Regions from separate parts of the Homo sapiens genome. Here regions 2, 3, 4, 5 and 6 are each reported to be linked to region 1. The links are microRNA targets in miRTarBase. Many come from high-throughput screens and were not tested one by one. Region 1 holds a microRNA gene; each other region holds the end of a gene's coding sequence.
The links. The annotated mature microRNA hsa-miR-656-3p reads AAUAUUAUACAGUCAACCUCU and lies in region 1 at 3,598-3,618, shown strand. An mRNA with a match to its seed (bases 2 to 7 or 8) in the 3' UTR can be bound and repressed. Matches are read on the target gene's strand: a 7mer-m8 pairs with bases 2 to 8, a 7mer-A1 pairs with bases 2 to 7 and ends in A, and an 8mer does both.

Region 2: the mRNA of FYB1 is a reported target of hsa-miR-656-3p. Seed matches in the 3' UTR shown: 8mer at 4,330-4,337 and 7mer-A1 at 2,617-2,623.
Region 3: miRTarBase lists SCAMP1 as a target of hsa-miR-656-3p. Seed matches in the 3' UTR shown: 7mer-m8 at 3,442-3,448 and 7mer-m8 at 1,445-1,451.
Region 4: the mRNA of ZDHHC5 is a reported target of hsa-miR-656-3p. Seed matches in the 3' UTR shown: 8mer at 4,181-4,188.
Region 5: miRTarBase lists ZNF703 as a target of hsa-miR-656-3p. Seed matches in the 3' UTR shown: 7mer-m8 at 1,128-1,134.
Region 6: miRTarBase lists LRRC31 as a target of hsa-miR-656-3p. Seed matches in the 3' UTR shown: 7mer-A1 at 4,422-4,428, 8mer at 4,397-4,404 and 7mer-m8 at 4,356-4,362.

The regions. Positions count from the first base shown.
Region 1 is chr14:101,063,169-101,068,242 of GRCh38, forward strand. MIR656 (microRNA 656) reads left to right here and starts at 3,556; the gene lies at 3,556-3,633. It overlaps MIR541 (microRNA 541), which reads left to right and starts at 1,327; the gene lies at 1,327-1,410. It overlaps MIR409 (microRNA 409), which reads left to right and starts at 2,132; the gene lies at 2,132-2,210. It overlaps MIR412 (microRNA 412), which reads left to right and starts at 2,279; the gene lies at 2,279-2,369. It also overlaps MIR369 and MIR410.
Region 2 is chr5:39,102,721-39,107,794 of GRCh38, forward strand. FYB1 (FYN binding protein 1) reads right to left here. Exons shown (of 19, transcript NM_001465.6): 19 at 2,532-4,745. The coding sequence ends at 4,723. Among named protein-coding and RNA genes, the nearest start is that of RICTOR, 31 kb to the left of the region's middle.
Region 3 is chr5:78,474,790-78,479,863 of GRCh38, reverse strand. SCAMP1 (secretory carrier membrane protein 1) reads right to left here. Exons shown (of 9, transcript NM_004866.6): 9 at 1-4,360. The coding sequence ends at 4,196. Among named protein-coding and RNA genes, the nearest start is that of SCAMP1, 120 kb to the right of the region's middle.
Region 4 is chr11:57,699,526-57,704,599 of GRCh38, reverse strand. ZDHHC5 (zDHHC palmitoyltransferase 5) reads right to left here. Exons shown (of 12, transcript NM_015457.3): 12 at 3,418-4,734. The coding sequence ends at 4,569. It overlaps MED19 (mediator complex subunit 19), which reads left to right. Exons shown (of 5, transcript NM_001317078.4): 4 at 204-298; 5 at 494-890. The coding sequence ends at 562. Among named protein-coding and RNA genes, the nearest start is that of MED19, 10 kb to the left of the region's middle. RefSeq lists an enhancer at 1-465.
Region 5 is chr8:37,697,790-37,702,863 of GRCh38, forward strand. ZNF703 (zinc finger protein 703) reads left to right here. Exons shown (of 2, transcript NM_025069.3): 2 at 1-2,230. The coding sequence ends at 885. Among named protein-coding and RNA genes, the nearest start is that of ZNF703, 4.5 kb to the left of the region's middle. RefSeq lists an enhancer at 1,358-1,869.
Region 6 is chr3:169,835,394-169,840,467 of GRCh38, forward strand. LRRC31 (leucine rich repeat containing 31) reads right to left here. Exons shown (of 9, transcript NM_024727.4): 9 at 3,779-4,920. The coding sequence ends at 4,589. It overlaps LRRIQ4 (leucine rich repeats and IQ motif containing 4), which reads left to right. Exons shown (of 6, transcript NM_001080460.3): 6 at 2,086-2,380. The coding sequence ends at 2,238. Among named protein-coding and RNA genes, the nearest start is that of LRRC34, 25 kb to the left of the region's middle. RefSeq lists an enhancer at 903-982.

The DNA.
Region 1 (5,074 bases):
ATACAGTCTCCCCCTTTATGCAGTTGATCTTTTCTTGCTGCCCCAAACCTTCCCGAGAGCTTCCCGGAAAGGTGTGCTGACTTCAGGCGTGACACACTGGTAAGGCGTCCTCCCGGGGATCTGGGTGCATGTTGTCCCCAGAGCATTCATACGTAAGTGACAGGCATCACCTGGTCTCCCTCCATCCCCACGGAGGGTTCTGGGTGAGACGCTGACTCCGGAGGGAAGCAGAAGTTCTACGGTCAGTGGGGTCTGGTCTTTCAGGACAGTTGCTTCTGTGAACTCAGAAAATCTGAGACAGCTCTTAGTTAATTTAGAAAGTTTATTTTGACAAGGTTGAGGATACACCCGTAACACAGCTTCAGGAAGTACTGTGGTCAAGGCACAGCTTGGCTTTATACATTTTAGGGAGACATGAGACATCATTCAGCACATGTAAGAAGTACATTGGTTTTGTCTGCAAAGGTGGGACAACTTGAAGCGAAGGCAGGAAGGAGGGAGCTTCCAGGTCACAGACAGGTGATACACAAATGATTACATTCTTTCGCGTTTCTCATGAGCCTTTCCAAAGGAGGCAAATCAGATACGCATCTGTCTCAGTGAGCAGAGGGATGACTTTGAATGGAATGAGAGGCAGGTTTATCCTGAGCAGCTTCCAGCTTGAGTTTTCCTTAGTGATTTTAGGGGCCCGAGATAACTTTCCTTTCACACTTCCAAGGCTATTGATGAACACACAGGCATCCAGGAACATTCTGGGGTTCAGTCCTTCCTCAGACTCTGCTGTTGATACCTTACATGGTTCCATGCTGGCCCCAAGGACGTGCCCTTCGTTGGTGCCGAATGTCATTTGGTCATAGAGGCTGAAAGTCATTCTGGAGTTGATGTTTCCAAGGTCAAAAACCTTGCTGGGGCTGTGGAAAGAGCTCGTTGTTTGCTGGCCTGCTTTGTTGGTGACCAGCATTGCACATGGCTTTCTTTTCAGATCAAACCCTACCTGGAGAATTTCCAGAAGCAACAGCACCCTCAGGAGGCGGCCTGCAGCCGGAGCCCTCTCCAGGGCAGGTGCCTGAGGGCCGCCCATGGGACAGGCCCGATTGTACCCACGGTGCATGTCATCTGTTCCACTCCTGCTGACTCCGGTGCGTTCCGGGACCACCTTGGGAGGTGATGCCTGCCCCAGGAAGGAGGCTCTGATGCAGGTCAGTGCCCATGGCTCCTGAAGGGAAGTCGTCTGTGACATCTTTTCTTTCTTTACAGCAGGCCTCGCATGGCTGGCCTCTTGCTCCACTTGTAGCAAGGCGCAGAGGGCTCTCTGAGCTCATGCCAACGTCAGGGAAAGGATTCTGCTGTCGGTCCCACTCCAAAGTTCACAGAATGGGTGGTGGGCACAGAATCTGGACTCTGCTTGTGGCATCCATCGTCTGGCCCGATGCTTGCTGGCTGCCCGCTCCAGGAGGCACCTTCTGGGTGTTCTCTGAGTCTGGGGAAGGTTGGGTTCTGAGGTCAGGGCTGCCCTGACCCTTGTGAAGAGAAGACATCTGTGACTCACCTGCTTTCTTCTGCTGCATTTATCCCCCCAGTCCCTTATTTTGAATGTCTCACTTGCTTTATGAGGCTAATCAGATGGTCAGCCAGCTGTTGATAACTGTGAAGTTACTCTTTGAGGGATCCTGGGGTGATGCCTCTGTGGGCTGGAGATGGTGCTGGTGAGACCGCAGGTCTGGGGTCAGCGTTGTGCCCCGTTGAGCTCCCGCCAAAGGAATCCTCTGCTGGGAGGGAGGCTCTGTGCTTGTGCAGGGGTCCCTACAGGGTCACCCCCTCTCAGGGTCTGGGAATGAAAAGCGGGTGCGAGCAGGGTTTCATTTTCATCTTTAGCAAGGTGCCCAAGGAAGGTTGCCGTCTTTTCAGTATAAGATCCTACCTGGGTCTTGCACTCAACTTCTGGGAAGAGTCTCTAGATTCATTCTGGAAGGGGTTGGAATCGTTGGACTTGGTGATTGGGAACGTCCTTGGAGAGTGTGAGGCTCTGGGCTCTGAATGCCCAGACCTTGTGCTGCCCTTGGGGGAGGGTCTTCTGCAAGCACAGCCGCCTGCAAGCATTCACCTTAGTCCGAGCATCTGAGCCTCTCCATGGTACTCGGGGAGAGGTTACCCGAGCAACTTTGCATCTGGACGACGAATGTTGCTCGGTGAACCCCTTTTCGGTATCAAATTCCACCAGGGAGGCCGTCTTGGAGGCTGGGGCACCTCGGGGAAGGACGCCGGCATCAGCACCATTCTGGGGTACGGGGATGGATGGTCGACCAGTTGGAAAGTAATTGTTTCTAATGTACTTCACCTGGTCCACTAGCCGTCCGTATCCGCTGCAGCCTGTGGGGCCTGCGGGCCGGGGAGCCGATCGCGCTTCAGCTCAGCGCCTTTCCTGGTACTTGAAGGGAGATCGACCGTGTTATATTCGCTTTATTGACTTCGAATAATACATGGTTGATCTTTTCTCAGTATCAAATCTCACCTTGGAGGACCCGTTGGAGATGAAGCCCTTTTGAGGGTAGGAGCAGGACGGGTGCTTTGGAGTCGCTGCCTCAGTGGGGCCTGGTCACCGAGAGTGGGCCGGGCAGGGGTCTCTTTCCTGTCTCTGTGTCTTCTCACCTTTGATGTCCCATCCGTCCTCAGGACTGCTTCCCGGGGGCAGCGCTGGCACCACGGGACGCGGCAGCCACGTTCTTGAGCCGATGGCACTCTGGGTACCTGAGAAGAGGTTGTCTGTGATGAGTTCGCTTTTATTAATGACGAATATAACACAGATGGCCTGTTTTCAGTACCGCTACCGCCCGGTGGTGTGCGGGCGCCACGCCTGAGGCGGGACTTTCCAGGGTACGTGAATGCATGGGCTGGTGTGACATTTGTCATCCTTTCCCCTGACCCCCGCCATTGAATCATTTTGGGAGAGCTTTCGGGGGGCCATGTGGACTTTGGGGAAGATGCTAGGGTTGTGCACTGTGGTGGGGGGCGGTCATGAAGCTGATGAGCAATGGTGACGGGGCTCAGTCTGTTTTTCATGGCCAGTGTCATCGAGGCAGAGGACACGGGGGAGCTAGTCCCGCTGGAAGGCATCCTGCTGGAAGGCCACCCACCCCTCGCCAGGATGTTGGGGGCGGCTGCATGCATTCCCTGCACCTGGGCTGCCTTCTGCTCATCTCAGTGCTGTGAGACCCTGGGTGGGAGCTGGTGCCTTGGGTGGCCGTGTGCGTGTGCTGCTCCTTGTGGTGCCTGAGGAGAGGTGGCCTGTGTTGCATTCACAGAAATCATGACACACAAGACACGAGCGGCCTCTCTTCAGTATCAGATCCCACCTGCATGATTCCTGCACCTGCTGATGTCGGGGAGGTCCGGTTGCGCGCCCTGTGGGCCCCCAGAGGCATGGCTGGTGGCCGAGCACGCGCTTGACTTCCACCTGCAGCCCTGTGCTGGCCTCCATCCTGGAGGCGGGTGGGTGGCAGGGCCCTTCCCTGTGGAAGAAGCCTCCTCCCTGGAGTCAGTGCTGCTCAGTGGTACCTGAAATAGGTTGCCTGTGAGGTGTTCACTTTCTATATGATGAATATTATACAGTCAACCTCTTTCCGATATCGAATCCCACCTTGGATGCCTTCCTCTTTGCTGTCAACTCCAGGCAGCAGCTGGCTCTGCGCTGGTTGACCCTGTGGACTTTGTGTAGGACCTGTGTCACTTGGCCTGTTAATTTTCCAGCTCCACTCTGTTCTGGGGGGCTTTGGAAGTGTGACAGAATGGCATCCCCAATTCCAGTGTCAGCGGGAGCACCCGCCATGCCCTTGCTTCCGGTTGGCACATCCCCCAGGCTGGGCTGGCTCTCAGCTACCCGATGCTTATGTCATATTTGCACCCCTGGCCTGCCCAGACTACAGGAAGATGACCAGAGGCCTGTTTGCAGCTGACCTGGAGACTTAGTGACTCCAGAACATGCTGCCCATGCCCAGGGTCCAGGGCTGAAGGCAAGGAGCACCTCAGGAGTGACCCCAAAGAATGAGCTAAGGCTGTCCTTTATCACTCATTGTTGATCAGTGAGCTCCTGGGCTCGGGAGATCTTCCTGAGCTGGGCTCCCGTCATCCCCTAGTTGAGACGTCGCTGCCTTGGAAGTCACAGCCTGTGCCTGCCCTCCCCCTTGTCCTCCTCCTCGGGACCGCTCCTCTCCATGCCTAGCATGGGAGTGGGGATCCCTGGCACCATCCCTCTGGGCTGCCTGCTCCCACTCTCCCTCAGCACCCCTCTTCCCCAGCCCCTGGGCCACAGCCCTGCTGGAGAGGCCGCCCCACAGGCTAGGTCCCTCCAGCCTGTGGCACTTGGGTCTCCCTCCAGTGCCCCTCCCTCTGCCAGGGAGAGCATTTCCAAGTGCAGAGTCCAGCTGTTTAACTCCGCTGCCCAGGGCACCTCTGCAGGCCCCTTCCCTTGGGCTTGGTACCAAAATGATCCGAGGACCCCCCAGGCCCTCAGAGTGGCAGCCCCCCTCTTCTTTTGGAGCCACAGCCTATCCCCCACGTGTTTTCATCCTTCATTCTGGCCTTGCACATGCCCCTCCTTCCGGAGCTGGGTCCTGGGCCGCCCTGCTCTGCCCTCGGCTGCCTCCTGTCCAGGCTCTGGCCCTTCCTTCCTTAAAGGCCCACATCCTTTGCATTTTCCTTTCCCAGGGGTTCACAATTCCCAAGGGGATGGAATGGCTCTTGTTCAGCAAGGTCATCCCTGATAACCCTATAAAAGCAGCTCCCCTTGCCTCTTCCCTATCACATTCTACCAGTTGCCCCGTTACTGTTTTCTTCCTAGCTTACAGTTCTCTGAAATTGCCTAATGTTAATGTCTACCTTCTTTGTGCCCTAGACTGTGAGATTTCTCATTGGCAGAAATTTCTCTCTCTCTCTCTCTCTCTCTCTCTCTCTCTCTCTCTCTCTCATCCCCTGCTGTGTTCAGTAGCAGAACAGTGAGTGTTTGTTGATTGACTAATGGAGTCCCCAAAGGCAGGGACCGGATCAGATGAATTCCCAGGCAGGTGCTGGGCACAAA
Region 2 (5,074 bases), not on the chromosome of region 1:
AACCCCCAAAGATGAGAAGTACCTGTTGAGCATTTATCCATTTCTCAAATTTGCAAATAAAGCTGAAGATTGTGCTTATGCTCCAGACTACTTTAGGAGAATGTACATATAGCCTACTGTTTTCCTGGAGAGAACAGAATGGAAACTGTTCATGATTGTGCAATGTCATCTTGTACAGATCATGACCTTCCCAGGATGGCCCACAGATAACCACGAGCAAGGCAAAATCACAAAGGCTGGCTATGTTGGCCTGAAGGACGATAAGTATTGGGCCGCATTTACTCCAGAGGCCTCAGTCTGGTCGGCTGAATTTTTGTCAGGCTTGCATCATGTTCAACCTCTTTCTCTGACCAATCTTTCCTCCTCCCCTTCCTTTCACAAATATTGATCCTTAATAGACATCTCTTCCCTCAAACTCTATCCCATCTGTTTCCAGAAAGCCTGATGAGCGACATCATTGCAATCAGCTTGGTCTTGATTGCTTCAGTGAATCTTTCTCAGGTGGCCAATGACTTACATGTTGGTAAATCAAATAGAGATTTCTTGGTCATCAATTTATTTAACCTCTTATGGCATCTGAAATAGTAATTAAGAAAAAATTACAGTGGCAGCCCACAGGATTAACACAGTCCTTGCAGACACATCATTCATTGATTCTTTAATTATTAAATATATAATGAAGGGCTTCAAATATGCCATAAAGTAAGAAATATAAAAACAAATAAAACAAAATTATTTGTTTTCTAGGAGCTCTGTTTAATGATATTTCATCAGATAGAGAGTAAAAGAGGAGAAAGAGAGCAGCCTCCATGTTTTGAGCTTGGATGACTGGATGATTCAGATGTCACTGAGGTAAAATCTATAGGAGGGATAATTAGTTTTAGGGGGAAAGAGAAAAGGTTCCTTTCTGAGTTCCATGAGTTACAGGTACCTGTGGGATATCATGTAGAGATGACTTTAGAGAAATCGTAGCAGAGATCGAGTTGCAGTAAGTTGACGATTGAATATACCCTGAGCATATGGCAAAGGATGAATAGGGATGGGAGATTCTCAAACGTGGCTGAGCATTAAACTCATATTTAGAGTTAAGGAAAAATGAACTCCAAAGTTTCTTCCCTAGAGATTTTTATTTGTTGATCTGCAGAGAAAAAAAAAATGTGTATTTTTACAAACTCTTCAGATGTCCTGTGTTCAGTTTGGATTCTCTGGAAAGCAGACACCAAGAGGGAGTGAAAATGGGAAGGGAGGAATACATGTGTGGGTGGGGAAGAATACATGTGTGAGAGAAAATGGGAAGGGAGCTGGAGAAGGCTGGAGGAGCTGACAGACTGCTATGCAAGTCTATACCAATAAAGGCAGGAGGGAGGATGGTTGGAAGTGTCTCAGAGCACTCTGCAGGTTTAGCAAGCTTGTCAGGGAGTCCTCAAACTGAAGTTGGCCATGTGAGGAGTTCTGTGTCTTTCAGGAATAGGCCTGCCTCAGTATCCCTGCAACACTCAGTCATTAGCTAGAACAGCCTGATCTTGGCACAAACATTGTGATGGATTTCAGAATGCAGCAGCTGGGGACTTTTGGACAATTAAATGCCCCATAGTTGGAAGTCTTTGAGGCACATTCTCCTGGCTGCCACATATACCCTGCCATTTTAAGACAATGAAATGAGGGGAAAAAAATCCAAACGGGCTGTAGCTGGACAGGTTTTTGGGCCCAAGGCAAAGTTTCATGTTGCTTTTTAGATGGGAAAGATTTCAGTGTTTGTAAGCCTAGAGAAAGGAATCTGCACAGTGGGAGAACTTAAAGATAAAGAAGAGGGATAGCCAGAGGGAGGCAGAAAAGGAGAAGGAGAATGGGAAAGAATGAATTGTAAAAGACAAACACTCCAGAAAAGGCAGGAAGAAATGGGATCCAAAGGTTATGGCTTTGAATTTAAGGCATGACATCTTATTCTCTGGGACAGTGTCTGGATATGGGTTAAGGTCAAAGGTTGTAGGGAATTGAAAGGAATTGCGTTTAGTTATCTTAATTTCTGACACAAAATAGGAGTCAAAGTATTAGGAGTCTTGGTAGAAGGTTTGGTCTTGAAGAGGAGATATCCCGTCTTCTGAGGCTGAAGCTAGAGTCAAGGTTGGATGCAGAGAAAGACTGTTTTGTAGATGTAGGATCAAGTTAAGAGAGAGGAAGCCTGATGGCCTCAATATTAAAAAAATATATTTATTTCTTTTTTTTGAGACAGGGTAAATTTTTTTGAGACAGTGGCACAATCATGGCTTACTGCAGCCTCGACCTCTCAGGCTCCAGTGATCCTCCCACCACAGCCTCCTAAGTAGCTGAAACTACAGGCATGTGCCCCCACACCCAGCTAATTATTTGTATTTATTGTAGAGACAGGGTTTTACCTTGTTGCCCAGGATGGTCTGGAACCCCTGGGCTCATGAAATGTGCCCTCCTCGGCCACACAAAGTGCTAGGATTACAGATGTGAGGCACCGCATCTGGCTAGCCTCAATTTTTTTAATGAAGTAGGAGGCAAGGTTATCCATTGAAGGTATTATTTATTTGCAGCTCATCTTAAGTGACAAAATTCCATACAGAAGACTATAACAGAAATCATATTTAATATATTAAAATTAATACTTCAAATATCTTTCACATTAAGATGATTATCTATTGTGTAAATCTTTCCTAGGTATGTGTGTCTGTTTCTTGATGTGTAAACCAAAACTCTGAAATATTCTCTTGATCTAACTTTGACTTTTAAAAACTGACATTGTACTGAATTTACATAATTCTCAATCAGAAAAAAAATTACTGTCAGACTGCAATGCAAGTCTGCCCCAATGAAGGCAGGAGGAGGGATGGCTGGAAGTGTCTCAGGGCACTCTGAAAGTTTAGCAAGCTTATCAAGGAGTCCTCAAACTAAAGCTGGCCAAAAACTTCAGCATAAAAACTATCCTGTCTGTGTATTATATATATTTATTACCAAATTTAATAAACAAAAACCACTTTTGAACCAGGTAATTTTATCTAGTGTGAAAAGAAATTAATCACATGGTCATATACTGGCTAGTGCTCTCTAAAAGTAGACATTAAAATATTTCATAATTGGAGGGAATCTTTGGAGATTAGTGGCATCTAATCTTGGGGCCTCAGACACCCAAAATCTATATATTGACCAGTGGAAGTTGATGATTTGTTATCAAATTTCAAAGCACCTAATGGAAACCCCACTTCATCTCTGTGAAGATTTTCAGTTCCTTTACAGTTATTTGAAATTATTTCAATTCTGTGGAGCCACTTCAGAAACTCCAATGGGCCTTTGCAATATTAAAATGTGGAGAATGCATTAATCATTATTTAATCAATGAGTTTAAAAAATAGACAAAAGCTTCTGAAACATGGGACTGAAGTAGGCGGAGCATTATAAAAGCCTAAGGTAATTGGTAGTGAAGAGTTGGAAAAACTTACTTAGTCTAATATTGTAATTTACAGATAAGGAAACTGAGAAGATAAATAATTTATTCAATATCACTCGATGGTTCATTAGTAGAAGAGCCAGCATTATGATGTACTCATTTTGTACTCTAGGAGTTGTTAAAAAGCACTTAATATCTTCTTTTCTTGGGTGTTAGCATTTTTCATTTTTTAAATCATGCTATTTAGTGTTCTTAACATTTGAAACCCAAATGGTTCACATTTTGTTTTTGGATTGCTTTGGGAATGAGTATGTACTGTTAGAGAAGGGCCCAATCCAAACACTAGAATTTTAATAATTTCTACTCCCTCTGCTGGCCAACTTTCCAGTAAAATGGATTTTAAAAAAAGAGAAAAAAAAATCTAGCGGTAATTGAAACAAAAACAAAAACTTTAAAAAGTGTCTTCATTATAAAGAGGTGCCATGCATAAAAGCCTAGGTAGTTTCAAGGTCCATTCTTCCATTCCTCATGATTTTAGGGTTATCCTCATTCAGATCTACTCTAGTTATAATAGTACTTTAAACAGAGCACAGAATTAAACCATTAGTATGTGAATCTGCAAAAAGAGAACTTGTTTTAGACTCTTCTACAGTTTAGACTTCAATGTGCATACTAAATGCATAACATTCGTATCAAATAATTAACATTTATATACAATTAACAAATAAGGACAAATTTTATACAAAACTTCTACTACTGCTATAATTTTTGAAAACATTTAACCCACTAGCAAGAGGTAAGACAGCACTGCCTTTTTAAAAGACAGGTCACTTGAATAGAGAATATAAGATATAACCATAAGTAGAAGTATAAACAATAATTTTTCTTCTTGTGGAATGTTTTTAAATTTCCTTTCTTATATTATTATTCTTCCTTAGGTTTTTTTAGACAGGTCATTTCTTCCTGAATGATTTTCCTTTTTCTTTTATTTTTATTTTTTGAAGGAGGATTATTTACTGGTGGTCTAAAAGAAGTACCTTCAACTTCTTCATAATTGTAGCCAAAGCGGAAATGGAATATTTAATAATTCTTACATCTCACTAATGTAGTCTTCTGAGTTAACAATTAAGCAGAGAGATTATTTTCTATGTTCAAACTTTAAACACTTTGTAAAGATAATTGGGATTTCATAACAAATGATAATAAGTGGTTTTGTGCATTAATTTTCTTGATACCCAATAACATGCCAATTAAAATCCAGACTTCACATTGGCACCTAATGAACACAGCAGAATGACCAAAGTTGAGTGCTAGTCATTGTCATAGATGCAGCCTGAAAGGAAAAAATACAAATTTAAATATAGTTATTAAAAACATATTCTCTAAGTATTCCAAGTTTGGAAATGTGGGTGATTCATACTCTCCTGGTTAAGGATTAAAAAAAATAGAACTGGCTCACTTTATAAAAAATGAGTTAAATGGAAGATCATATATTTAACTTTTATTATTTAGTATATAATTCAACAAAATTTCTGGACAGATTTATTCTCTATTAAAATGAGACTCAAGATTATTTTATGTGGCACTTAGTCATATACTTTTTGGTAGTCACTCTGAACGAGGTTGAAGATATTAAAGAGCAAGACTCATAAGTTTAAAAGA
Region 3 (5,074 bases), not on the chromosome of region 1:
TCACCATGTTAGCCAGGATGGTTTCGATCTCCTGACCTCGTGATCCGCCCACCTTGGCCTCCCAAAGTGCTGGGATTACAGGCGTGAGCCACCACACCTGGCCAAAATCCTATACATTAAATGTTTGTCTTACCCAAACCCCAAAGTTAAATTGTAAATATAAAACCCACAGCGGGGGTGAGAAAACTGGAGAACAGTCTTTCTCTATTTTCCTACAATCTTCAAATAAGAGGTATCTGCTTATATAAGACAGGTTAGTGGCAATACCTGGCTTAGAAAGTTTCTAGATTTATTTCTAGCTCTCTACATACTGTGATAAAGTCCTAAAGTTTAAAAATACCCACCAATATTACAGGCATGCTGCTTTATAAAATATGCCCTAAAATTCTAGCCAAAATACTTCACTTTCTGTAATACTTAATATGTGAGATAAAACTTTTTAGCTCAATAAAAAAGTATTTAAAACAACTCATGTTTTAAACACATTAGTCTACTCTAAATAAATGTATACTATTGTACTTTAAAATGTATCAAAGTAAGGTGTTTTCTATTTTTTAACCATCCTCAATTTTTTTAAAATTAACCAATCTTATTTCATCTCTAAAGGGCTTAATCACATGAAATGAACAAATTCCTCTAAACATTTTCCTTAAGGAAAAACTGAAAGGAGATATAGTGAAATGGTATATGACAGCCATGGTAACTCTAAGGTATACATAAGCAGGGGAAAAAATGCTCAAAATGTAACAAATTCTGTATATAAACAGTCATGCCAAACACAGATTTGTACCAATAAGGATACTGAATTAGATGTTAACAACAGTGTTTTCAGAAAAAGATACAGCAATGAGTAAAAAGCACTATGCTATTACAAATGATTTACAGAAACAACTAATTAACCTAACATAAATCCCCTTAAAATGCAAACCATACATAATCTTAACATGAATTACAGAATAAAATATTTTCCTAGTAAATTAGGTGTAAAAATCCAAACTTGCTTTTTTAAATATAACACCCAGAAAATAAAGAATACTGTTCCTTTTTTAACATGTATTTCTCAAAATAAGATTCACCATGAACATTATTTTAGATATTTTTACATCTTCTTTAGCTAACCAAGTGAAAAATCCAATATACACAAATAGGTACTTTCATCAGTACATAAAACAGCAATAGGTAGCAAGGATAGAAATCAGAATACAAGTTCAATTGAATAAATACAATACTAGTACAGAGACACCCATTTTTAACCCACAATGAAAAATCTGAGCCATGAATAGGTTTTCCATTTTGAATCTAACTTCTAGATGATCTGTATTTTGACCTTAAAGGGGCCAAAATATTTAATATGGGTGAAGCTCATGTTCCATTACCTGTAAAGGTCTAATGCAACAGAAAAATGGTCATTTTACATTGGTTAGAATTTTTAACTAGGTCTTTCATATTATTTTGTTTAGCACATGACAGACTTATACACATATTTTAAAAAATCAAACATGGAATTTCTATATACATCAAACCTTTAACAATGTCTGTCTCTGAATTGCTATTATAGTGTTCAAAATTATACAAACAAACATCCAGTAAACAGCATTTTATTTTATGACACTCTGTGTTAATACAATAAATATACAAAACTTCCAACCCACTGAAACATGCAACATTAGAGGGACACATGGAGGGCATTTCTGTAGAACCATGACAGTCACCATGATGGCAGCGCAGTATTAGTTACTGACAAAATATACAAACATCTCTAGATAAATAATCCAAGTCCCAAATTACAAATCACTGAGTAATGACTTTCCGGTGTTCAAACTTTAGTTTGAAATAAAATTGCCATAATTTAATATTACAAAATGATAAATGACACGGATGACTGCTGTGTGAAGACCATTTTATGACTATGATTTCATGACTGTGATTTTAGTACTAAATATAGAACACTTAACAAATGCCAATCTTTTGCTGAGTGAAAATTTAACAATTTACTGAGAGAAAAGTAAATATAAGAATTTAAAGTTCCTTTCATACTTGATCATACTATAAGCATTGCCATCATTTCAATGCACATATATTTTTAAAAAACAATTTTCTCTCTCAAACTCATATTAAATAACTGGATTTTAAAACATTTTCCCCATCCACACAAAAAAAGATATGTGGGTTCTAATTATTCTTTGCTATTTAATAATGCTACCTTTGAAGATTTCTACATAATATAAACATTCCAATTCTGAAGCAAAGTATTTCAGCATTTTTCAAAAGTCTCTAATATATCTTTTGTTTGTAGTGTACAGGAAAAAATGGACTTGGGATATAAGTTAATGGTGAATATAGGTGCACTTGCTGTATTTTGTGGTTAATGTTTTGAATGTATGCAAAATCCACACTCAATAAAGCACACTGATAAAATAGATTTCCAATAAGACTACAGGCTCTGAAAAACAAACTGGCTAAGTTGGTTGAGAACATAGGTAGAAATTATCGCTGATTAGAAATATTTACAAAAAATAGCTTTAAATTCATACGCTGAAGAATAAAAGAAATGTCTTCCAAGTATACCTGATGTCAATAAGATCCCAAATAAATCAAATGTAAACACCATCTGGATGGATCTGTGTTACCTAGTGACATGCAGCGCTGCTTCATGGATAGTGAAAACTTGGCATCCCACCTCTAGCATAAAACTTTTTCTGTAACTACAGGTTTGGGGAGAATGAAAGTGATTTAACTATTTATGCCTATCTGATTTTTTAAAAAATAAGGATTTCCAGCCTCTAATATCACAATCCTTACTTAAAATCTAATTGAATAATCACTATCATTCTGCAATCTTAATTTAGTTAAAGACTTTCAAAACACAGCAGCATGACTTACAGATGTCTTTGAGTCATTTATTTAATCAGTGGTAAAATTGATTCAAAGGTTGAACCCAAGAATACTATAAGAATGAAGTTCTGTGCTGCATAGTAACAATTTTAACGTGATTATCTTAATGCAGTTAACTGTATTTATATTTTCTTGCTTGGTGCAAGTTAAATGCTTTTTTTTTTATTGCTGGAAATTTTAGATATATTCAGTCTGTCTCAAAAAGTGAAAGACAGGTGCATTTAGGGATTCAAGTATGTGAAAAAATGCCAGGGTCTTTTTATGTTTAATGCCACTGGAGATGAAAAGCTAAAAGGAAAATCCCTTAAATACTGTACAATCTTTTTAGACAACAGTTAGGCTAGCCTTTAATACCTCTGTTAAAAATCACACACACACATCCCCAAAAAAGAGCTGCCAGACACAATCTTAGTTGTAACCACAGAATATACCAAAGTTTTCATATAGCAAAATGTTACTATATGACTACCGAAATTTTTTTAAAAAGGAATTATTACCACTACTTTCTACTGCATTAACTACCTTCTCTTTTGGATAATGTACTGCATATTATATAAACTTCTTATATTGCACCCCCAAACTTTTTATTTAAAAGAAATTCTTGCAGAATATCATTTCTGTGATTCCATTAACCCCTGAATCCTACAACCATAAGCAGTACAGAAGCCAAAACACTAATTCTTTTAATATAAGAAATGTGGTGCCCATGCAAATTAGAGATTGTTATCAAAATATCAGCTATTCTAAAAAAAAGAAAAGAAAAAGATGACAAATTTTACATTATCTACTACAAAATGCACATAGGCTCTTCACTGGTGACTGAAACAGCTAAAAAGCAAGCCAATTTAAAATCCCTAAGTCTCTGCTGGCCTATTTCTTTCAATATAAATAGGGAAAAAGGAATGAAACATGGTTTACTTTTCCAATGTGCAATCCTTATCTCTAAAGATTCTTGAAAGAACTACTGCAGTTAGTATTAAATGCGTTTTTAATCATAAGTACCATTATTAATTTTCAGTGGGTCACCACTGAAATAATTCACTGAATGTCATCCCCCAAAAATATGGAGAATATTTATTTAGCATGTAATATTTTTTCTGCAAGGGGCACTGAAATATTAAGAAACTATTAGGTAAAGTAATAAGACAAGGAAGTTTTCCTGGTTTTAGCCCATGCACAAGTGAACAGGAAATATCCATGCTGTCTGTACTGTGTGTTTTGAACATAAAAATATTTGTAGAATACAGTAACTGGAGAAAAAGGTACAGTCAAAAGGTAACAGTGTATTGTTTGAAGATTCTTAAATCTGGTTACCCTTGAAAGCATTCTGAGCTGCACTAGATGCTGCAGTTGAAGCTGCATTTGCAGCTGCGGTCTGGACAGTTTTGTTGGACATCACACCTGTTGCAAACTCCTGTTGGGCCTTCTCAAAACTAGCACCTGTTGTGCGATATAGTCCATGTACCTACAGAGGCACAAAAAAGTGGGAGAAGGTAAGTAGCAACCTACGCATTCATTTCCAGCAGCTCTTAATCTCAACATTAATCAAACATAAAAATACTAGATTGTAGTCATGATTCCTAAGATCAAGAATATTAGCCACCAAACTGACACACAATAATTGTATTTAAACATTTTCTTAATATAGGTTTTCCTTTTCTTCTCCAAGCAGAAGAGATAATTATGCTAATTTAAACCAAAAATAAAGAACTTCTTAGCCAACTTCAAAAAGTTGTATTTTCCTCTGCACCCAATTAGTCAAGTGAAATTATTACAGCATTACAATGAAATGGTTTAAACATAATAACAAGAAACAATACATTAATTTATTACCCCAGACTATTCAGAGAGAACAGTACCTTATCTATTTCCATTTTATCTACATATACACCACAGGCCCTGTTATAATCAAATGAGATCATTTTATCATTTAATGTACCAAGCACTACTTATGTCCTTCAACATATTGCCGCTATGCACTCTGTATACAATTTAACTTTTTGTGTATGGTCAAGTCCTAAAGAATGCACAAAGAAACACTTCTGGGAATTGTTTCTCCATACTGATTAATCACTCAAATCTTGGAATTTATTTTCAGGAGTAGGGTTCAAAAATTTTCTATCAGTATATGTCTTAAAACCTGCATAATTAAACTATGAGTCCATCAATACATAACATC
Region 4 (5,074 bases), not on the chromosome of region 1:
CCTAAATTCCCCTGAAGAAGAAACCAATGTACTGTGGTCTCTTGGGACTTGGGACAGGGACTCTAGCAGCACCTCTGTATCCTTTCTGGCCATTTGGACAAAAGCAGTTGCCCCGACTTGGGATTTTCCTGTAGTCTTCAGTGGTTCATAACAGTAGAGGATTTTGAGCTTTACAGGTGATAGGTACCTAATGTCTCCTACAGAAACACCATCTGATTCAGATCACAAGAAGAAGAAAAAGAAAAAAGAAGAGGATCCTGAACGGAAAAGGAAGAAGAAAGAGAAGAAGAAAAAGAAGGTAGAGTAGAGGCCTATTGCCACAACCCAGTGAGTTTCCCCAGATCTCACCCCTGTCCTAAATACCCTAGAGTTCTTTGCCTCAAGTTGGACCCAAGATTGAAAACCCAAGGCAGGTTGCAGGTTTCTCCTGTACAGCCTGATCAAAGCCAAGGCTAGTTCCTAGTTGTTCTTACCCTGCTTCTTTCTCCCCCAGAATCGACATAGTCCAGACCACCCAGGTATGGGCAGCTCCCAGGCCAGCAGCAGCAGCAGCCTACGCTAATAGGACCACTGGACTCTTTGCCAGGATGGCTTTTCCTGCTGTACTGAACCTGCTGATAAAAGCTGCCTTCCAGGCTCTTGGACACTGCCTTGGGAGCATCCTGCAGCTGGGACAGAGGCCAGCTCCTGTTGGGCTCAGTTGAGACTAAGTAAATTAGGAGAGAGAGGGACATGCTTTTGTAGGCTCATCCCAGTTGGTTTTCTCATGGACATCTCTTCCTCTCCCAGGAAGCTTACAATTTTCTTCTCTCTCTTTTGTGCAATTTGTCTGATTTAGGACTTGTTCTGTGTTTTCTTTAAAAAAAAAAAAATTACATTTATCAAACTGGCTGAAGTGTGACTGCCTGTTAAGAGGTATGTGCCTTTCTGTGAATCAGGATTTAAGACAAGGCATTCCTAAGACTTGAGGGGATTTGGGTCTTGTCATTACATGATCTCACTAGCAGGCAGGGAACCAACCAAAATGAAAAGTGACCCAAGCTTACTAATACTCCACAGCAGACACGTAACACTCTGCCCATTATGTTGAGAACCAAGCGCCTCGGTGATCTCAGGCTCCATCTGAAGAGCTGATCCAGGTAGGGCTCAACAGTGTATTCTAGGTCAATTTTGTGTCGAAAGAGAATAGCCAACTGAAAACACATGGACAGTCACCCATGTGTTTCAACAAGATTGGTTCTTTAGGTCAGAAGCCTGTGATCTTTTGAGATGAACTTCTGGCAAGCAAAGGTAAAGCTTCCCTTCTCTTTACAAGAACTTTTGACCTGCTTCGGTCCTTAGTTAAGACAATAAAGTTATTTAGCTGATGTGAAAACATTTCTAAAACAGCAACAAAATGTAGCCTAAACCATCAAAATGTGAAAAACAAAAACAAAAAACACTTTTAGTTTTTCCAGCTGGTTAGGTAACTGAAAACATCCATGAGAAAACCTGAATTAATGTAATCTGACTTTAAATTTAACACAGTTAAAATCTGTTGCCGTGAAAGCCAAGGTTGTTCCTGAATCAGTGGGTGGAAAACCACTCATTCAGCTGGTTTAAATCCAGGATTTCAGAATAAGAGTTTGCTGGGTTTTTTTTTTTTTTTTTTTTTTTTTGAGACAGAGTCTTGCTCTGTTGCCCAGGAGTGCAGTGGCATGATCTCGGCTCACGGCAACCTCTGCCTCCTGGGTTCAAGTGATTCTTGTACCTCAGCCTCCCAAGTAGCTGGGACTACAAGTGTGCGTCACCACACCTGGCTAATTTTTGTATATATATATATATATTTTTTTTTTTTTTTTTTTTTTAAATTTTGGAGAAAGAGTCTTGCTCTGTCGCCCATGTTGGAGTGTAGTAGTGCAATCTCAGCTCACTGCAACCTGCACCTCCTGGGTTCAGGTGATTCTCCCACCTCAGCTTCCCAAATAGCCAGGATTACAGGCACCCATAACCAACGCCCAGCTAATTTTTGCATTTTTAGTACAGACGGGGTTTCACCATTTTGGCCAAGCTGGTCTTGAACTCCTGACCTCAGGTGATCCACCTGCCTTAGCCTCCCAAGGTGCTGGGATTACAGGTGTGAGCTACTGCACCCAAATAAGAGTATATATATATATATATATTTTTTTTTTTTTTTTTTTTTTTTTTTTTCCTGAGACGGAGTCTTGCTCTGTCACCCAGGCTGGAGTGCAGTGGCGTGATCTCGGCTCACTGCAAGCTCCGCCTCCCAGGTTCACGCCGTTCTCCTGCCTCAGCCTCCCAAGTAGCTGGGACTACAGGCGCCCGCACCACGCCAGGCTAGTTTTTTGTTATTTTTAGTAGAGATGGGGTTTCACTGTGTTAGCCAGGATGGTCTCGATCTCCTGACATTGTGATCAGCCCGCTTCGGCCTCCCAAAGTGCTGGGACTACAGGCGTGAGCCACCACGCCCGGCTAAGAGCTTATATTCTTAAATTTTGAGTAATTAAAGGGCTCTGGTCAACTGCTTGAGATTTAGTGTCTAAGGATACCTATTTAAAATTAGAGCACAGCTTTTGTCCAATAAAATGCAATATATCTAATTGAACTGACACCGATATCTAGTTAACCTGCCTTCAACAGGCTTTCATACCTGTTACTATGTCACCTTTGGCTGTTTCCAAAATTAGCTTTACTTTCCAGAGACTAAATCCTGTATTAAAAAACAACTGTAGCTGGGCATGGTGGCTCATGCCTGTAATCCCAATGCTTTGGGAGGCCAAGGCAGGATTGCTCAAGGCCAGAAGTTCGAGATCAGTCTGGGCAAAATTGGTTGAGAGTCTATCTCTACCAAAAAAAAAAAAATTAGCTAAGCATGGTGGCATGCAACTGTAAGTCCTAGCTTCACAGAAGGCTGAGGTGGGAAGATCCCTTGAGCCCAGGAATTTGAGGATATAGTGATCTGATTGTGCCACTGCCCTCCAGCCTGGGCAACCAGAATGAGGCCCTGTCTCTTGAAAGAAACAACTTTTAAGAGTTCTCTAAGCTTTCAAATAACAAGCAGTTTTGGTGATTTCAAGAGACCTTTTTTCAGGAATTTTTGAATTAAATCACCCAAATAAAAACAGGACCTGTTGTTTTTAGAAATGGAGTCTCTATGTTGCCCAGGTTGGTCTGGAACTCCTGGGCTCAAGTGATCCTCTTGCCTCAGCCTCCCTCAGTGCTGGGATTACAGGTATAAGCCACCGCACTGGGTCTCTTTTTTATTTTTTTAGTTGTTAAGTGGCTAATTTCATTATAGTCTTGCCTAAAGATGGGCTGGGACCAGAGAAGTTTATGAGGTTGTCACTGATAACTTCCCACCAGAGATCGTTCACCCTGTCTCAACCAGACAAAATAACACAAGTCAGGGGGCGCTGGTTAGATCAGGATTTCTTTTTATTCCTCGTTGGTTTAAAATGGCTAATCAGAATAAAAAATAAAAGGGCCTCTTTGTGGAGGCTGGGATCTCCCCTATTTAGAGGTTAGAACCCAGGTATCCCCTCTACCCAGCACCATAGTGAGGTGGGCTGAGGGGTAACCCCCAAGGGACAATCGGAGGGGCCTAGGCCTGCCACTCCTTCTCTCTATCCCCCGTTTTTGGCATGTGATGAAAAATATTGCTTTTTGGATTCTTCTCTCCTGGCCTTGGATTTTAAAATCAAGTTAACTGTGTAAGCTAGGGGAGGCTCCAAGGGGCCAGTAGGAGCACACTCTAATCCCTCTCCCCCAAGGAGGGGATTATCCAATATTGTTTGAGCTAGGCCAAGTTATTTTCCTGATCTCCCACCACCACCAGTGTCTTGAAGTTTTGACCCCTTTCCTAGGGAAACTAAATGCCAATGAGCCTAGAAAACTAATTCTCCTCTCCAAGTCCTTCCCTCTTGTGACCAAAATTCCAGACTCACCTCTCCCCAGGCTTCTTCCTAATCACACTTAGCACCAGCAGAGGATGCTATTTCCGTAGTTAGTAACTGGGACAAATGAGAGGGAACCACAGGAAAAAGACTGACGTCTCCCCTCTTTTCCTGCTGGTCTGAGGAATGGGAAGAGTAAGATCCCCCTCCGTATATGTATCCCTCCCTCATTTTCCCATCCCAGGATAGATATATAATTTCTTTGATATTTATAATATATATATATATATATTATATGTACACACACACCTGGTAACGCAGAAGAGGAAAAAAATAGAATCCGTAACAATAATAAAAAAAATTATTTCTGGTTTAAAAATGATCTGGTTCCCTCCAGGGCGAGCAATTGCACAAATGTCCACTGAGTCTGGTCCAGGGATCAAGGAAGGGAAGGTCTTAAAAGATAAAAGGGGGGGTTGCTACCCCAGTCTCAGGGCCCCAACTCTCCGACTCCCCAAGCCTACTGCATTTTAGAAAACACTCCTCATCCTCTTGGAATCGGTGGTTTAAAAAATGTCCATGCACGGGAGGGGAGCCCCTTGAGGGAAGGAAGGTGGCCACCTGGGGCCCTTTGGTGTAGGCGCAGAGGCGTTGGGGAGGGGAGGTGCCGAAGGCTCACACCGAAATCTCATAGGTGGTACCACCAACCCCTGACACCTTCTTGACTCCTCCCCTCGTGGGGCTACTGAGAGGTGGCTGGCCTGGGCCAGGGGAGGCTGAGCCTAAGCTCTTGGGCTGCCCGTTGGATTTGCTGTAGGTGGTCTTCAGCTGTACTTCATCTCTGGAAAGAAGAGACAAGACGTAGGTGTCAGGAAATGGGACAGAAAACATTGGAAAGGGAGACAGTTTCAAAGGTTCAGAGAAAAAAATGATGTTCTTTTCTATATCCATACTTTCTTACCCAAACATTCCCCTTTATTGCCCTGCTTAAAATAAGCCTGATTCCCAATCTCTCCTATGTACTACTACTCTCTAGTAACAGCTATCACATGTACTTACTCCCAAGCAAATACTTTTAGGAAGATAGCATTATGGAAAAAGTATTAATCTTCAGTCTCTTAACAGGAATTGCCCATGAAGGCAGGTAGAGTCAAAGTGAAAATAAAGAGCTACCAGGATAC
Region 5 (5,074 bases), not on the chromosome of region 1:
TCTCCCTACAAGCCGGGCCACTCGGTGTTCCCGCTGCCGCCCTCCAGCATTGGCTACCACGGCTCCATCGTGGGCGCCTACGCCGGCTACCCGTCTCAGTTCGTGCCTGGCCTGGATCCTAGCAAGTCCGGCCTCGTGGGAGGCCAGCTGTCTGGGGGCCTGGGCCTGCCGCCGGGCAAGCCCCCCAGCTCCAGCCCGCTCACCGGGGCCTCCCCGCCCTCCTTCCTGCAGGGATTATGCCGCGACCCCTATTGCTTGGGAGGTTACCACGGCGCCTCGCACCTCGGCGGCTCCAGCTGCTCCACCTGCAGCGCGCACGACCCTGCCGGGCCCAGCCTGAAGGCGGGGGGCTACCCGCTGGTGTACCCCGGGCACCCGCTGCAGCCCGCCGCGCTCTCGTCCAGCGCCGCCCAGGCCGCGCTCCCCGGCCACCCGCTCTACACCTACGGCTTCATGCTGCAGAACGAACCGCTGCCGCACAGCTGCAACTGGGTGGCAGCCAGTGGGCCGTGCGACAAGCGCTTCGCCACCTCGGAGGAGCTGCTCAGCCACCTACGGACCCACACGGCCCTGCCGGGAGCCGAGAAACTTCTGGCCGCCTACCCCGGGGCCTCGGGCCTGGGCAGCGCCGCCGCCGCCGCCGCCGCCGCCGCCTCCTGCCATCTGCACCTCCCCCCGCCCGCCGCCCCCGGCAGCCCCGGGTCGCTGTCCTTGCGGAATCCACACACTTTGGGCCTAAGCCGGTACCACCCCTATGGCAAGAGCCACTTATCCACAGCGGGGGGCCTGGCCGTGCCGTCCCTCCCCACAGCCGGACCCTACTATTCGCCATACGCGCTGTATGGACAGAGACTAGCTTCAGCCTCGGCGCTGGGATACCAGTAACTACAGCTCTTCCTCCACCCCAGCCCCCTCACCCTCCTCCCTCTCCCTCCTCCTCCCTCCCCACCTGCCGTCGCCGCTGCAACCTCCACTACTGCTTGACCCTGCCGGGATTCCCCACCCAGCCCTTCCCCACCGGACTGTGTATTTATTTACTATAATGTTAGCTTACAAGCTGGGAATATAAGTGCATTAACGGCCCACATGAGTCAATGGTATGCAAAAAGTCTGTGTTCTCCCAAATAATAATATTAATCCCACAAATAACGACATGATCCCCGCCCCTGTTCCTTTCTGTTATTTTTTCTTAGATATAAGTTTTACATTTTTTATTCCTTTTCCTCTTTTTTTGGTTTTGATTGGTTTGGTTTGAGGGAGAGTTGGGGTCTTTGGGTTCTTCTAGACGTTTTGTTTTCCCTTCCTGGGGAGTTTCTTGCATGAGTCTTAACTTAAAACTACGTTTCCGCCTTCTCTTTTTCCCTCTTCCCCCTTCATTCCCTCTTGTTTCCTTCCATTTGCGGTTCTGTTTTTGTTTTTTGTTTTGTTTTGTTTTGTTTTTTCCTTTGTTGTACAAGTAACAGAGAGGAGGTTTTTTTTGTAACTCATTTTGGGGGTGGAGGGGGCCACCTGGGTGGCAGGGGCCCTGGAGCTCTATTGACCTGGTACACTGCTCCGGGACTCCTCCCCCGCCACCCTCCGCGCATAGGGTCCTTGGTCTGGACCCTGCCCCCCAAAAGTAGGGCCTTGCTCCTCTACCTTGCTCTGAGCACGGAGAGCCCTGACCCCACCAGTAGGCTCGCCCCCAGAAGGGCCCAAGTGGCCGTCTACCGTCACCTTCCAGACTCCCGCCCCTAACACCCAGTGGCTACAGTGCGCCTGTCGGGGCACCTGGAGCGCTCACCTGGTTGAATTCAAAGTCCCAGAAGGCCCCGCTGGCGTGAAGCCGGCCCCTTACATTTTGCGAAGTGCATTATAGTCCTTGTTTTTCTCTCCCTCGTGGGGGCAACGACCCCTCCCCTGGCAGTAGGGGTGGGGTAGGTGACTCTCGCTAGATCCCTCCAAAGCAGACCGGTGGCGATGTCAGCGGATGTCACGAGCTCGTTAGCTGCGTTCGGGGAAGGTTGGGGCGTCAGGGAGCTCTCGGATCACAGCAGCCCCCGCCCTCTCCTAGGCCTGGCCCGGCAGAGCCCCCAGAGTGGACCCCCCAGCGACTGGGGTCTTCTCCCCACTCCTCCCTCCTTCTGGTCTGATGCGGCAGCGCGGGGGCTGCGGGGCCTGTTTGGGACGAACAGAGCTCTCCCTTGGTAAGACTTATTTTGTTAATAAATGGAATACTTGGCTATATTCACACCGTGGTGTTTTTCTCTCTTGCCTCGCCCACCCTCTTCCAGACACCTAAGCAGATGCCCTTCTTTTATTCTTGTTTAAAATGCCTTATGGTTTCCTTCTGTGATTTCCGTTCAAGGACGAGTTTAATGCCTTTCCTCAAGAAATGGGGGAGAAAAAACAAAACTTCTGCCAACGCATTACAAATAACATAAAACCACCTTTTAATTTTTTTCCCCAGTTGGTTATGTAGCTCCCAGCCTCACTTCAAAGGCCTTGACATTTCCTGGGGCCAGGGTGGAGGGTGTGTGTAAAAGTGGATTTTCCTCTGGGCCCAGATGCGACGTGCTAAGGGGGCTAAGAAGGGACCCCAGGACCCCAGCACCAAGGGCTCCGGCAGAGACTCCAGCAGCGCAGTCCTGGAGCCCGGCGGCCTGGCGGGCAGAGACGAAACGCCTTTGGCGCCACCTGGTGGCAGGAAGACGAGCGACAGGCCTCGGAGAGAAGGCGCAGCCCGCACTAGCCCCGACGGCACCTTGGTTCTTCTCATCTTCTGAACGCGAAGGATTCCTACCTGCTGTTTTTGTGGGGCGTTTCCTCTCTCCTGACCAGAGGGTAAAGGCACCTGCTGAGAGGGTTGCTTCTCAAGGCTTGGGGGCTCCCCTCAGCCATCGCTGGGTTGTCGACCTGGGTCATCTGCGCCCCGGAAACTTCGAAACAGGGTTTGGGTTTTGCTGAGAAGATGCGACGATGACTCAAGACCTTGAAGCCATTCTCAGTCCGGAGGAGCCGGGCCCCTGGGCCTGGCTCGTCCATTTTCTTGAGCTCGCACGACTGACACTGGCCTCTGCATCCTCGGGCAAGAGAGGGCGGGTGCTGTTTACTGACGTGTTGGCCAGGGAGCCTGCCCCCTGTACCATAGACAGGCCCTGCGCGAGTGTCCAAGGCGGGAGGAGAGAAGGGACAGCTCTGGGAGGCCCAGCCACGTCCAGCCCAATGCAGACTCGCTGCCCTACCCCCAGCAGCGAGAGCGGGCTGCGCCCGCCAAGGCACGGCGGCTCAGACTTCGGCTGCCCGACGCCAGGACCCCGCTCCATCGGGCCGGGGGCGCTTGCTCCCTGCGCAAGGGCCTGGGCGCGCGGGGCCAATGGGACGCTCTGCAAAACCGCCTCCTGCGCCGCTTCCTGGCCGCGCTCCTCGTGGGATCTGTCGTTGGGGTTGTGCTGTTTGCTTTTTCTGTAAGGAATGCGACTTGGGAGTTCGTGCTCTGAAAGGTGCATGCTTTTGAAACGTCTGTGGCCCGAGGTCAAGTGCAGTGCGTAGGATGGGGCCGGTTTCTCTGCGCTGTTTTTGGTTGTCCACAAACTCGACGACAGACAGGGCGTGTGTGTGTGTGTGTGTGTGTGTGTGTGTGTGTGTGTTTGTGTGTGTGTGTGTGTGTGTGTGTGTGTGTGTGTGTGTGTGTGTGTTTTACCAAATCTTTGGATCTAGCAAAAGGAAAGGGATCCTGGGGTGCTCCTACCACTGGGCACTGGGAAACCCGAATTAGAGAAAGTGCCCTGAGACCAGATCAGGGTCTTCCTGGGAAACCAGCATTATCCAATTTCTCGGGGTTCAATCTGGCCCGAATCTTTAAACGAACTAAATGTAGCGACTCGTGGCTTTATTGTTTCTTTTTCTGTTGTTTTGTTCGTTGTTTATTATTTCTTTGCCATCTTCCCTTCCTCTGAAGGCCCCTCTTTCCTTCAGAGACCCACCCCCTCACTATGTTTTTTAATGCCTGCTAAAAATGATGGAAATTGCTCCCTCTGTAGGGCGACTTAAACTTTGCTTTCTTACACTTCAAGTCTTCAGACCTCCCTATCTACAAACCAAAGGGCTCCTCTTGTTGGGAGGAAGGAAGGAAGGGACGCACAACCAGCAAATTCCCTATACCAAAAGAAACTGTTCTAAAAGGTGTTTGGCTTATACCTTAGGTGTAAGAATGCAGTTAGAGAACTCCTTAGACTACAGAGTTTCCCCCATAAAATGTATTGGTGGCCTTTGGTGACTGGGAAGTTCACTGTTGGGCCTGGTGGGAATAGGCTGCCCCCAACTACCATTGTGGCCGCAAAGGGCAGGTCACATAGTCTGGAGTGTCCAGTTCTACTCTGAAAAGATGGCTCTCCCCACCTAAGAAATGTGACAGTTTTAATAAGCTGATGAAAAGTTTGTTACTTTCAATAGCTTAATTCCCATTAAACAAAGTTGCCATCTTAATGGAGGTGGTGCTCCCCTATCCAGTGCTTATTTGAATAATTAATGCCTCCAGCAACCCTTTCTTTGAGGGTCACCTCCACCTTCCATTTCTCCACCTCCTCTTCCCAGCCCTCCTCCGCCTCTTTCTCCTAATCTGTCCCAGGCGCCAGAAATGGGGCCGGTGTTCCCAAAGCACCAGGAAGGGTGGAAGCCACAGGGCTGGAACTTGAGACACTGGACGTTCCTGGCTCCAGGTCCTATTTTCACACCTCTTGCCTGGTTATTTTTGTGGCCTTGTGGCAGCCATGGGAGGAAGGGAGGAGGAGAAAGAGGGGAAAGACTCACCCTTGGATATAGGCTGGACTCAAACAAAATCATGTGGTGTTAAGTTTTTAACTTCCCAACTGTACACCCGCAAACCCATCTCCTAAGAAATTCATAGCCCAAGCGGGAGGTGTGGGGCCCTTCCCCATCTTTCTGCAGCCATAATTGCTCTGCCCTACCTAGCATACTGTGATTGTATCTCTGGGTATATGAACTAACTCCCTCCTGATGTATGTCTGGGTTACGGTGGAATTCATCTTACAATAATCCTGTGGCTCTACACTTTATTAATCATTCTGTAGGG
Region 6 (5,074 bases), not on the chromosome of region 1:
GTCCTAATGATTTTTGGAGTCCAGGGCAATGCACCATAGTAAGATTCAGGTGGGTGCAAGCTGTGCCCTTCCTCTGTGGAGCATCACAGGGGCAACTGGGATGGGGGATCTGCAGTTATGTTCTCGGGATGATTTTAGGAAGGGGTACATATGGAAGCTGGAGCTCAGGAAATGGACTGTCTTCAACCTATCCATGCCTGCACACTGTTGGAAAGGCTTTGTAGACCAGGGTATAGGCCACACAATTGAAGACTGCTTAACCTTAAGTCAACAAAAAGCCCCATAAATTTCCAAAATGCCTCTAGAGAGCAGTGCTGTTCCCTGGATCCCGATTGGTCTGCTGTTTTCACTCCCCATCTCCTCTTTCCTACTCTCACTGGACTTCAGTCACAAGCAGATCTGGTGTTCCTCCAAGGACCAAGCATGTTCCTGGCTCAGGGCCTTAACACTGGCTCTTCCTGTGCCCAGAGATGCTTTCCCCAGATATGAGCAAGATTCTGGCCCTCACTTCATTCCATCTCTGCTTAAACATTCTCTTATCAGAGAGCCCTTCCTTGATCCACCTTATATAAAACAGCATACCCCCAGCCACCTCTTTCATTTGTTCATTCATTCAACAAACATTTATTGAGCTTCTACTATGCACCAGACACTGTTCTAAGCATTGAGATACATCAGTGAACAAAACAAATATTTATGTCCTCACAGTACTTAAAATCTAGTAGGAGGGAAATAAAAGCATGAAATAGAAAACATAAAATGAAATACTATGTTAGAGAGTGCTACTGTTTAAAAAAAAAAAAAAGTTAGCCTAAGGGGAACTGAAATTGCCAGTAGTGTGTGGAGGTGGAGAAGTGGTTGATTTAAATAAGATTGTCAGAGTAGGCCTCACTGAAAAAATGGCAGTCTTAGCTTAGGCTGCCACAACAAAATACCATAGAACAGGCGGCTTAAACAATGGAAATGTATTTTCTCACAGTTCTGGAGGCTGGAAGTCTAAGGTCAGAGTATCAGCATGATTGGAGTCTGGTGAAGGCCCTCTTCCTGGCCTGTAGAAGCTGACTTCTCCCTGTGTCTTCATATAACAGAAAGAGAGAGAGAGAGAGAGAGAGATTGCACTAGAGAGTGCTAACTCTCTGATATCTCTCCTTATAAGGCCACTAATCTCATCATGAGGACCCTGCTGTTATGACCTCATATAAATCTAATCATCTCCTCAAAGCCCCTTCTCCAAATTCATTCACACTGGGGATTAGGACTTCAGCATATGAATTTGGGGCAACACAGTTCAGTCCGTAGCAATGACAATCAAGCAAATCCTTGAAGCAGCGGAGGGGTGAGCCATCTGAATACTGAGAAGAGTTCCAGGCAAAGAAAGCAGCGAATATACAGGCCCTGAGTCACAACTGTGCCTATGTGTCTGAGCAGGGAGGAGGCCCGCATGGCTGGAGCAGAGTGAGCCAGGGAAAAGGGAGTTAAGAGGTTAGAGGGGTCAGGATTGGGGAGGCAGATCAGAGAGGGCCTTGTAAGCCATATAAGGACTTTGGCTTCTATTCAGAGAGAAATGGGGAGCCACTGGACAAGTCTGCTGCTAGAGGAAGGGTGTTGCTGGGTAGGTAGGAGGGAATAGGATCCAGGGAACAAGTGAGGGCTGGCTTTAGGCAGGAGCACAGACAGCCCAGTAAGGAGCAGGAAGGCAGGGCGTAGGCACTCAGATCCCCTCACCATGTGCGGTCACTCTCCATAGCACTCATCACCGTCTGACAAATTGAACATTCATGTGTTTATTTTGTACTGTCTCTTCCTCACTGGAATGTGAGCTCCATAAAGTTGAGACAGTTATTTCTCTGCTGTTGCCCAAAAGTCTAGAACAGGCACTGGCACATAAAAACAATAAATGCATTTTTTAAAAAATTTGTCTGAATGCCTAGCCAATTGAGAAAGATAGAAAATAAAATTTAGAGTTCTAATCACATCCCATTCTCTCCACGTCTTCAAGACCATGTATCAGAATAAAGAGATTTAACAATTTCCAGTTCATTGTGATACCAGCCGATGCTGAATTTGGGTTTATCTTGTTTTCAGATTCAGGCATGGTGGCGTGGAACAATGGTACAGAGAGGATTTGGGAAATTCGGTGAACTACTAAAACCACAAAAGAAAGGAAAGACCTCTCCAAAAGATAAGAAAGGAAAGAAGGATGTAAAAGGAAAACCAGGAAAGGGAAAAAAGAAATAATCCTGTAAATTGATAAATTGGGGTAATGGACCTTGATAGATTAAGAAGACAAAATATCTAGGAATTAGATGCCTACTACATTAAAATTATTCATAAAATTACACTTATGTGTAAAAATAAATGATTCTTACTTTTACTGAAATATTTATGGATAAAATGATATAACACCTTGGAATTGCTTCTAAATAATATGGGAGGGGGAGGGGAAAGTGGGTAGGAATACAAGTGAAACAAGATTGGCCGTACATTGATAACTAGAATAAGGTGATGAGTACGCAGGGGTTCTTTATACTATTTGCCTACTTTTATTTATTTATTTATTTTAAGACAGGATCTCACTCTGTTGCCCAGGCTGGCATGCAGTGGTGCAATATTGGGTCACTGCAACCTCCATTTCCCAGGTTCCAACAATTCTCATGCCTCAGCCTCCCGAGTAGCTAGGACTACAGGTGCATGCCACCATGCCTGGCTAACTTTTATATTTTTTTTGTAGAGATGGGGTTTCACCATGTTGGCCAGGCTGGTCTCGAACTCCTGACCTCAAGTGATCTGCCCGCCTTGGCCTCCCAAAGTGCTGGGATTACATGCGTGAGCCACTGCACCCAGCCAGCCTACTTTTAAAACTTTTACTGTGAAATAATTATAGATTCACAGGAAGTTCCAAAGAAATGTTCAGGTAGGTCCAGGCACTACTCAGCCTCCCTCAACGCTGACCTCTTTTATAACTATAGCACAATAACAAAACCAGAAGATTGACATTGGTACAATCAACAGTGCACTCATTTGTGTGTGTGTGTTTGTGTAATCCTATGCAATTTTGTCACATATAGTTTTGTGCAGCCACCATCACAGTCAAGACATAGAATTGTTCCATTGCCACAAGTTTCCCTTGTGCTATTCCTCTGTAGCCATACCTACTGCCTACTCCTCTCCCAATGCCTAACTTGTTCTCCAGATCCATAATTGTGTCATTTTAGGAATGTCACATAAATGGAAACACACAGTTTGTAACTGGGATTGGCTTTTTTATTCAGCCTAATCCACCTGAAGTCTATCGAACTGGGGGCATGTATCAGTGGTTTGTTCCTTTCTGTTGCTGAGGAGTATTCCATAGTCCCACAGTTTGTTTAACCTTTCACTCATTGTTTCTAGTTTTTTTGCTATTGTGAACAAAGCTGCTATGAACATTCATGCATAGGTTTTTGCATATGCATAGATACTCATGGAATGCATGGGAATGCTCATGATATTCATGGTATTCTTTTATATCATGTAACCCAAAATATCCCCTTTACATCATTCAAAACCTCCTCATCCTGAAAACCTTTTAATTTGGAGTAGTGTTGATTTTACATTTGCATGTCTTTCAGGCAGTGATTGCAATACTAATTATTAGTGTAGTAGAAGAAAGCAAAACATAATTTGACTAGAGCTTGTCAGAATAGAAATGTGCAGACAAACATCTCTGCCATGCAATGACTTTCATGCTCTAGCAAAAGAAAATCAAAAATTTCAAAAATAGTTTAGAGCAACACAAAACTGTCATTAACGAATTAAATTAGTTTTATGAAGCAAATTCCATTTCAAAGAAATGCCTGGAGGCAATATGTTAACAATTTTTTAAACAATAAAAGGTTTTAATTTATTCTAACAAGATATGTTTTTCATACTGAGTTTTAGATTTTTAATCACTTTTTACTAAGATTTATATGTCAGTGACTATCATTACTGTTCATGGTTTATATCTGAGATAAAAGGCACCAGAATATAAAATAATAAACCATAGAAAGGTACACTTTCTGATAAAAACCTACATAGACTACATTAAGATACATATAGTAATAGTAATGATACATGAAACTATTAGACAGCTAGTGCCTTTCACATTAGAATTACACACACACACACATACCCCTTTATATTTAGAACATTTAACTTGTAGGAAAAGAAGAGGCAAAACATTTCTGGGCAAGAGGAAAGCAGTTGCAGTACCAAAATCTAAACACTTTTGGCAAGGCTTCTAAACAGCAAATGAACTAATTATATATCCAAAACAAATCCATTGAAAAATGCCATTTTTGTTTCATAGACAGAGAATAATGGCATGCTCATATTAGATATTATATATATATTTACATATATATGTGTATTATATATGTATATTATATATATGTGTATATATGTATATTACATATATATATGTAATATATATATATATTTACAAAGCTCTTGTAATATAAGTCCCATTAAATGGCCCAGAAGTTGAAATTCAGTTCATGACTCTGGAATTCGTTCATGTTCTTTTCCTTTGGAGAATGGTTTGTAGCTTAGTAGGACATGGGAAATCAGTTTACTGAAACCCACCATGGTCAAAGTGAATGCTTCTTTTTTTATCTTGGTCAAAGCATTCTAGTTCTTCCTCCTGTGAAGCTGGGAGAATCCATCTTTTCATTCCTATCTCAGTGATCTGAGGAAGCTTGGTCACAGCATATAACAAGTGTCTAAACCATTGTCCACAATCTCGAAAATTTGATGGTCGAAGGCTAATATCCAGCTCGATTAGCTCTTTGAGGAACCGCACGTTTTGGCAGAACATGGTCCACCCCGCATCACAGATGCTGTCATTGTAGCTCAGGTCCAGCTTTTGCAGTTTGGCCAGATGACCCGTCTGTATGACCGATGCTGGAAAACAGAATCACTCTAAATGCTAACATACAAGAATACTGTCTGCCATGGCTATTCCCATTTCCCATAACACTATCTCCAGGAATAGTAATGACAAGATTAGTAATTAGTAATGATTTGTTATTAGCAGCTTTATTCAGGACATCTGAAA